3 separate regions of the Homo sapiens genome follow, and all the other regions are linked to region 2. Evidence: fine-mapped expression QTL. A gene starts in region 2. Each other region holds a variant in brackets. All regions are shown on one strand. Distances are between the middles of the regions.

Evidence for each region. PIP is the estimated chance that this variant, and not a neighbour inherited with it, causes the effect. A credible set is the group of variants that fine-mapping cannot tell apart.
Region 1: its variant is the best candidate, but not a certain one, in a credible set for the expression of HIBCH in fibroblasts (GTEx, PIP 0.50).
Region 3: its variant is the best candidate, but not a certain one, in a credible set for the expression of HIBCH in whole blood (TOPMed, PIP 0.66).

Annotation. Positions count from the first base shown.
Region 1 is chr2:190,365,807-190,368,306 of GRCh38, forward strand. It overlaps INPP1 (inositol polyphosphate-1-phosphatase), which reads left to right. Exons shown (of 7, transcript NM_001128928.2): 5 at 889-1,089. Among named protein-coding and RNA genes, the nearest start is that of INPP1, 23 kb to the left of the region's middle. The variant G/A (reference allele first, on the strand shown) is at 971.
Region 2 is chr2:190,318,691-190,321,543 of GRCh38, forward strand. HIBCH (3-hydroxyisobutyryl-CoA hydrolase) reads right to left here and starts at 1,136. Exons shown (of 14, transcript NM_014362.4): 1 at 1,026-1,136. The coding sequence starts at 1,060.
Region 3 is chr2:190,202,187-190,205,039 of GRCh38, forward strand. It overlaps AKAP19 (A-kinase anchoring protein 19), which reads left to right. Exons shown (of 2, transcript NM_001042519.2): 2 at 1-1,298. HIBCH (3-hydroxyisobutyryl-CoA hydrolase) reads right to left here. Exons shown (of 14, transcript NM_014362.4): 14 at 1,734-2,853. Among named protein-coding and RNA genes, the nearest start is that of AKAP19, 23 kb to the left of the region's middle. The variant G/C (reference allele first, on the strand shown) is at 1,283.

The DNA.
Region 1 (2,500 bases), 47 kb after region 2:
CTCTCGCTCTCTCTGTCTCAATCTTTGTCTCATTCTCTCGCTGTCTCTCTCGCTCTCTGTCTCTCTTGCTCTGTCTCTCTCTGTGTCTCTTGCTCTGTCTCGCTCTCTTGCTCTGTCTCACTGTCTCTCGCTCACTGTCTGTCTCACTCTTTTGCTCTCTCTCGCTCTCTCGCTCTGTCTCGCTCTCTCTCGCTCTCTCGCTCTGTCTCGCTCTCTCTCGCTCGCTCTCTGTCTCACTCTTTTGCTCTCTCTGTCTCTCTGTCTCTTTCACTCTGTCTCTCTCAGTCTCTCCCTGAATCTCTCGCTCTCTGTCTCGCTCTGTCTCTCTTGCTCTCTCTCGCTCTTTCGCTGTCTCTCTCGCTCTTTGTCTCTTGCTCTCTGTCTCTTGCTCTGTCTCGCTCTCTCGCTCTGTCTCTCTCTTGCTTGCTCTCTGTCTCACTCTTTCCCTCTGTCTCTTTCACTCTTCCTGTCTCTCTCTCGCTCTCTGTCTCTCTCGCTCTGTCTCACTCTCTCTGTCTCACTCTCTCGCTCTGTCTCTCTCTTGCTTGCTCTGTCTCACTCTTTTGCTCTGTCTCTTTCACTCTCCCTGTCTGTCTCTCTTGCTCTCACTCTGTCTCACTCTGTCTCACTCTGTCTCACTCTCTCTGTCTTGCTCTCTCTGTCTCTCGCTCTTTTGCTGTGTCTCTCGCTCTCTCTGTGTGTCTCTCTCTCACTCTCTTGCTCTGTCTCTCTCGCTCTTTCGCTCTGTCTCGCTCTCTGTGTCTCTCGCTCTCTCTCTGTCTCTCTCTCTCGCTCTCTCTGTCTCTCTCACTCTTTAGCTCTCTCTCTCTGTTCTTTCTCCACTGAAACTCTTGAAATGTAATGGCTTATCGTGTGGCTTTACCCTAGGGGAAAAGATTACCTTGAGGTTGTGTTCAACAGAGGAGGAAACAGCAGAGCTTCTTAGCAAAGTCCTCAATGGTAACAAGGT[G/A]GCATCTGAAGCATTAGCCAGGGTTGTTCATCAGGATGTTGCCTTTACTGACCCAACTCTGGATTCCACAGAGATCAATGTTCCACAGGACATTTTGGGAATTTGGGTGGACCCCATAGGTAAGTATAGGAAAGTATGTTTGTTCTTATTTGCAATCTTTTTTTTGGTGGTGGGGTTGGGGATGGGTGTTGGAAAAATAAAAATTATTGAGTGTAGTTTAACTCTGCTAGAAGTTTTTAAAATTTTAAAGTTTTAAAACAATGAGAGTTGAGGTGTATGTGTCATGTGTTCTGTATATATACATATATATTATAGCCGTGTGTATATATATACATATCTATAACAGGTGTGTGTATATACACACACATACATACAGGCACACATGCAAAGATGAATTAACTTCTCTTCAAAAGACTTCAGGGACCAGACTGGTAAGTAAATGAGAGAATGAAGTGAGAGCAGTTATGACCAATTGAGCACACATACCATTTAAAGAGCACTTAGCTTTAGCAGATTGTTACCATATGGGAGTACAGGCCAGCTCTTCAGATTTTTAAAGAGAAACCAAAATCCAAGGTTTTCAGCGATATATCCCAATTTCTAACCGTTAGCTACTAATTCAGTTAAAGAAGGAAACAATCAAAAAAACACAGTACAGGTCAAGCAAAAAGCTGAATGTGACGCATGAGCAGTTTGTGAGCCCTGCATGAGCTCTACATTTTTTTTGGTCATGATTGTGATAGAACCATAATGTATAATCCATTGTTTTGAAAATGTAACCCTTTTTTTTGAGACAGAGTCTCGTGTTGCACACAGGCTGGAGTGCAGTGGCACAGTCAGAACTCACTCACTGCAGCCTTGTCCTCCTGAGCTCAAGCAATCCTCCTATCTCAGCTTCCCAAGTAGCTGGGACCCAAGTAGGTGGCAGAGTTGCATGCCACCTCACTAGGCTAATTTTTTATATTGTTTTTAGAGAAGGGGTTTTTACCATGTTTCCCAGGCTGGTCTCGAACTCCTGGGTTCAAGCGATCTGCCTGCCTTGGCCTCCTAAAGTGCTAGGATGATTACAGGCATGACCTACCATGCCCAGCCAGCCTTTATCTTCAATGATGCTATTAATACAAGTTCTAGGTAATAATTTTAATAAGCTCCCCCTTCCTTTTTTTTCTTCCCCACCCAACACAATGGGACCATTCAAGGACCAGGCAAACTCCTCTCTGGGCCCTTCCCATCCTACAAGTGCATTCACAGGATGATACTGAAATGGGTTTAATCTTCAGATAATTATATCACATTCAGCCAGTGGATGATATATGGAAACTAAAAACCTTTCCCCAAATCTTTGATCATTTAAGGGTAAATTGGCATCAGTTATAGTTTCTGAGGGACAGAGATCTCCTGTTTCTTGGTTCCACCCTGAATTGATTCTGTTTTTGAGCTCTTTGAGTCTTTTGCCAGGCACATCCTTAGCCGTGTGTTGACTCCCTAGACGTCAGCAGTCAGCTGCTGGCATGTACATCTCTTAAGGGG
Region 2 (2,853 bases):
TTCTCTATTTGCTATTTGCTGACAACACTGAAAAAGCGGCAGTAACGATTACGTGTACTGATTTTCTTAGCATTTACTAAATCTCTCCATGAGCTGGTGCAAGGACAACTAATTTTAAGGTATTAAAAAAACAAACAGAAAAGCAACTCTTAAATGTATAACAAAAATTTACTGAGAATTAGGTCTGTGGATACAGTGTTAGACATCTAGACACTTTCCCCTGAAACTATTCTTCTTAAGTCAAGGAAACACCTCCATCCCTTTTCAGGAAACCCAGAAGGCAAACTCTAAGGCTTAAAGAATCCAGTAATTTAAGTCGTCCTTATTTTAAAGAAATAAGGACGGTTCTCCCTTCAAGTGGGCGCAGCTGCTACCTGGTATGACAGTACAGGGCCAGGCAGTGGGCTGTTTAAGGCGCATGCAGCCTAAAGATGATGGCTACCAGATTTCCTAGGCTGAGCTCAAAGCGCAGTGAGGGGTACTTTCAAAAAGTTAAACAATGTTTGCAAACATGCTCCCCCATGCCACGTTAAATGTCCCTCAACACTAGCCTGAAAGTTCCAAATGCCTATACTGACGCTGCAGCCATGCAAGAAAGCTGAATAAAATCACACCACGGGCAGAGAGAGGTGCAGCAACTGGCAAAGCACCTGTGTGTGCTGGCTGCACAAAACATGCCGCACAGTTCCGCTAAGCTAAATCTGTCCGTGTCCCCAGACTGCACCCAACTTTTAAGAAAGGAAAGAAACTGAGGCCAAAAGAATTAAAGTCGTGTGGGGACAAGCCTGAATTAAGAGCCAGAGTGGCAGAAAACCAGAGTGCTGCTGCAAAGAAGATGCTAGAGGGAGAAAGGAAAGACAGGGACGGGGGCTGGGGCTTGGGGAGGGCCAAGGTTGGGGTCTCACAGCGGCGCCTCTGAGCGCGACTCGAAACTTCGAGGCCAGCAGTCTCCACCCCCGGCCCTTTTCCCACTGTGGCGAGTGCCGCTGAAGAGCCTGCCCTTGGCCCCTCGCTCTCTCACTCACCTCGACATGAGCCTCCACATCTCGCGCTGCCCCATCGCCAAACACTCCGAAGCTAAAGCAGCAGAGCGAGAATCTCCCGGACCGTTCCAGCGCCTCGCGTGAGCCCCGCCCACCGCCGTCCTGCGCCGCCGGGCACAGATGACAAGTCCTCCAGGAAGCCAGAGCGACCGTTTCCGCTACGCGACGGGGAAGGGCGGGGCAAGAACGACGCCTGGAGGAAATAGTTGAGGGAGAGGAAGGGATCGGGGACCGGGCCAGGGAGAAGGCGGAGAGCGAGCTGAGGCGGAGCGGGAAGAGGGAGGATAGAACGGACTAGGGCGGATTCGCAGGAAAGGAGATTGCCCTCTAGAGGCTGTCTTAGCCCAAAGCGCAACCTGTTGTCTAGGCTTGGCCTGCCAATTTGACCAGCAGGGACTGATGTGAAAGACTTTTCTGGAATTTTAGTAATTTTTTATTAAAACGTAAACTTAGTATTCTTTGAGACTCAAGTAGAGGAATTACAGTTGATAAAGGACATCGATGTAGTTTATTCATTCCTAACCCAATACAGCCGAATTCCTTTAATATTAGGATTGAGACATTTTCATTTTTCTTGGGAAAAGTTACAGATCTCCCACTCTTCCTCAAAGACACACAAGAGTTGTCTGATTAAGACATAATAGATATGTCTTCCCAACTAAAGTAAAAGTTGCTGTTATCAGTGGAAGCATAATTACATTCAGAAAGTAGCTTACTCTTAAATGAAACCAACATTTAACTCAACTACTAGGATCCACTGTTAAATTGAGGAAAACGTTCCTCCGCTTCCAGATCCACCCAGATGTGTAGCAGAAGACATTTCATCGCCACTATTAAGTATTGACACATTTATCAGAAAGAAGAAATCCGGTGACAAATTTCAGAGAGGACACATGAAAGGAGTTATTCTTAGTACCTTGATATTTAAAGAGATACACTGTTGAGACTTTGATCAAAAATTACGTTGCTAACCTAGGTCAAATGTAATAACCAAATGCCCACTGAGAAGAGGACAGACAACAGACATCACAGAAGGAACTCCTTACCTGCAATTTGGTTTTTAACTGGCTACAGGACATCACCATCTGACATCACCATCATGCCTCATTCACTGCGCACAGAAATGAACCATTCATCTGACCTAGCATGGTTTACTGGAAAAAGCATGGGCTTTCCTGTTAGTCAGACTGAGATTCAAATCTTCCTTGCCGCCCTAGCTTCATGTGTGTGAAACCTGAGTCTCACAAGGCCTCATCGTTAGAAGGGCCCTGTGCTTGTTTTAATGCTGTGCTATTAATAATTTTTGAACAAGGAAACACAAATTTTCATTTTACACTAGGCCTGCAAATTATGTAATCAGTCCTACCCCTAGCACACTAATAGTTTAATGACCTTGAACAAATTATATAGCTTTTCAGAACCTCCATTTTCTCATCTGAAAATGGATGTGCTGATGATTAGAGGTGTTTGTGAAGATCCATTGAAATATAGAAATATGTGCATAAATTACTTAGGACTTCGTAGGTATCAAGACCTGTCAGTTATGCCACACCTTCCACCAAGCTGTCCTTCCTATTCCTAAATTCTCTATTTCTTCTAATGATGCTATCGTCTTCTGGCTTCCCGCTCTAGAAACCTCAGTCCTTTAAAGAAAATTATCTTAACATTCTATTTTGAAGATTTTCAAACATATAGCAAAATTATAAAAATTTAAAGCAAACGCCTATGTGCTCACCACATAGATTCTACCTAGATTTACATTTTATCTTGCTTTATTCCTTATCCCAAATACCTTATTTTTAAATGCATT
Region 3 (2,853 bases), 120 kb before region 2:
TTCTGTTGCTGCCCTTCCTCAGCAACTATGGCAGTATACTTTTATCACCAAGCACCACTCCCTTGTCCCTGAATCACATTTTAATAGAGTACAATATCTTCTGTACAATATTTCTGAAACACTTATGTCTGAAATATATGCTGTATTGTATGTTAACCCATGACATATATGAACTACAAGGCTTGCATAATCAGTGAGCTAGTGGATAAATCAAGACAGGAGCAAATGGGAGAAAGATGAATAAACAAATGAAAAAAGATGAATAAATGAATAAGAGAGATGAATAAACAAATTTACATTACATGTGATAGTTATCATGGTATGGCCTTCATGACAAGATGGATGAGAATATCACTGATAGGATATTAGCCTTCTTTCATATCTTTATATTGAAATATGGGCTTTACTTCAATTTGAAGGTCTTTCATGAACAATAAAAGAGAGTAGAAGGACTGTCTGAGAAGGCAGGAGACATATAAAACAGATGACTGAAAGACTGACTAGCTCCTGGAAAGGGAAACATTTGGAACATCCAGAGTAAGGGCAAATGGGCTTCTACCAGCACAACAAAGAGCCTCCAGGTGGCAACATGGAAGCAGGTTATCAGAGAAAATAAATGTGCAAATTCCTTATTTACAATGACTCACTTAACCCCACAAACATGTTTCACTGCTGCCTTCCCCAGTTGTCGCTTATGTACTGTTGTTACCTTTCAGTTACATGCCTTTGATCCTAAAATTCTCTACTTTTGTTGCCTTATCAGTTCTTTGCAATCTGCCTGTGGTTATCAGCACTTAAAGCACAATTTTGAAGGGGAAAAAAATGATAATCACCTTAGTCCCAAAGAAATAATTTGTCAAACTGCCTTATTAGTATTAAAAACAGACACACTGAATGAAGTAGCATGATACGCATATATCCTACTCAGTATCATTGGCCTTTTATCAAATGGGGAAACTATACTTTTGTATTACATAGTTTTAGAAATCGAAAGTTAGAGACTCTTTATAAGTAATGTCAAGGAACAGTAATTTAAAAACAAAGTTCTAACAAATATATTGTTTGCTTAATCACAATGCCCTCAACTTGTATTTGAATAACTAAATAGGACATGTCTTCCTTGGAGCTGTGGGCATTAGTTCAGAAGCACTACCTGCATCTTAATTTTCAAAACTTAAGTTTTATTAGCAAATCCTCTTCTCTGTAAGACTTAGCTATGAAGTGGTATATTTTTTCCAAATATTTTTCTGAAAACATTTGTTGTTGTAACTGCACAATAAAA[G/C]TCCAGTTGCAATTAACTAGTGTGAGCTCTTATTTAACTGAAGCAAATGCTTTCTGACAGTGTGTACTTTGAATTTTTTAACAATATAAAAGACAACATTTTCTGCATTGTTAACAAATATAGAGAACAAAAATCCATTTATACAAATAATTTCTTGGATCATTCAGGTCCAATTTAGGACCTTTAAGAGTATAAATGTAAATGTATCCGATATCATGGCATCTTTATTCCAGATCTGTTACTGAATTATTTGAAAGAAAAATGCTTCACATAAAACAGATTAAGAACTGAGAAAACATAAAGCAATACCTTCTGGGCTGCCATTTCCTCATCTATGAGAAGGGTGCAGGACATGATCTTTAATGTCTTTTTCAGTTCCGTTGGCTTTTTATTCTTACAAACCTGAAGTTCACTTAGTTTCTAAAGAGTATGGGATGAAGGAGAAACTATAACAAGTTACAAAAAATTTATTTTGTTTATAAACAAAAATTACAAACAAAAAATTATAAATTTTGTTTGTTAATTTATAAACTTACCTTTAAAATTAAACAAAAATTACAAACAAAAAACAAAATCATAAATTTTGTTTACTTTGTTAATTTATAAACTTACCTTTAGTTTAAAAATTATTCTTGCCTAGAACTTTAAGGTTCTGAGTCTGGAATACCTTTTAGTTCTTTCATACCTTAAAAAGTACTTACTTCATTAACAATATCAATTATTGAATATATCTTTTGAACAAAAGTCTTCTTGCTTTCAATTAATTTTTTTCTCCTGACTTGAACCTTGTTTGTAAGGATAATTATCACACAAAAGTCTTACGTAAATTATAAAAAAACAGAGTGTCTCTATCTAAGAGATTGGAGTTTCCTAATTTCTCATTCTACCAGATTAACAAATATCACAAATAACAAGAAAATAATCCTTTCAGTTTCACCATGGGATGGTATTCTGATTATTTTAGGGAAGACCAAGTCTGAGTTAATACTGAAGAGGGACGTTAATAAAAATCTTTTCTCTCTGCCCAAGGTTTCTAATGTTTATAAAAGGAGCTCTTCTGCTACAGTAACTCAGTTACTTTAAAACACACTCATATATGGAGAAAATTCTATGAGGCATTAACACAGTATCCAAAACAAAAATTCTATGAGGCATTAACACAGTATCCAAAACAATTTTCAGGGTCTTTATTTTTTATATTGTATACCTAAGTTGATTTCATCAACATACAAGCCAAACGAAGATCCCATTTCAATTAGATATACCACTCAAGAGAATCTCCAAAGATCTTCACATTTTTCCATCTTCTAAAACAAGGATTGACAAACTTTTTTCTGACAAAAACCAGACAGTAAATAATTAGGCTTTGTAGGCTTTACCATCTCTATTGCAACTACTCATTTCAAAGCAGCCACAGATAATATATAAACAGATGAGTATAGCTAGTTCCAATAAAGCTTTATTTGTGAATTCTGATAATTTTCACGTCATGAATTATTAGTCTTTGATTTCTTTTCCCAACCATTTAAAAATGCGGAAACCATTCTTAGCTTACAGGGTATATAAAAACA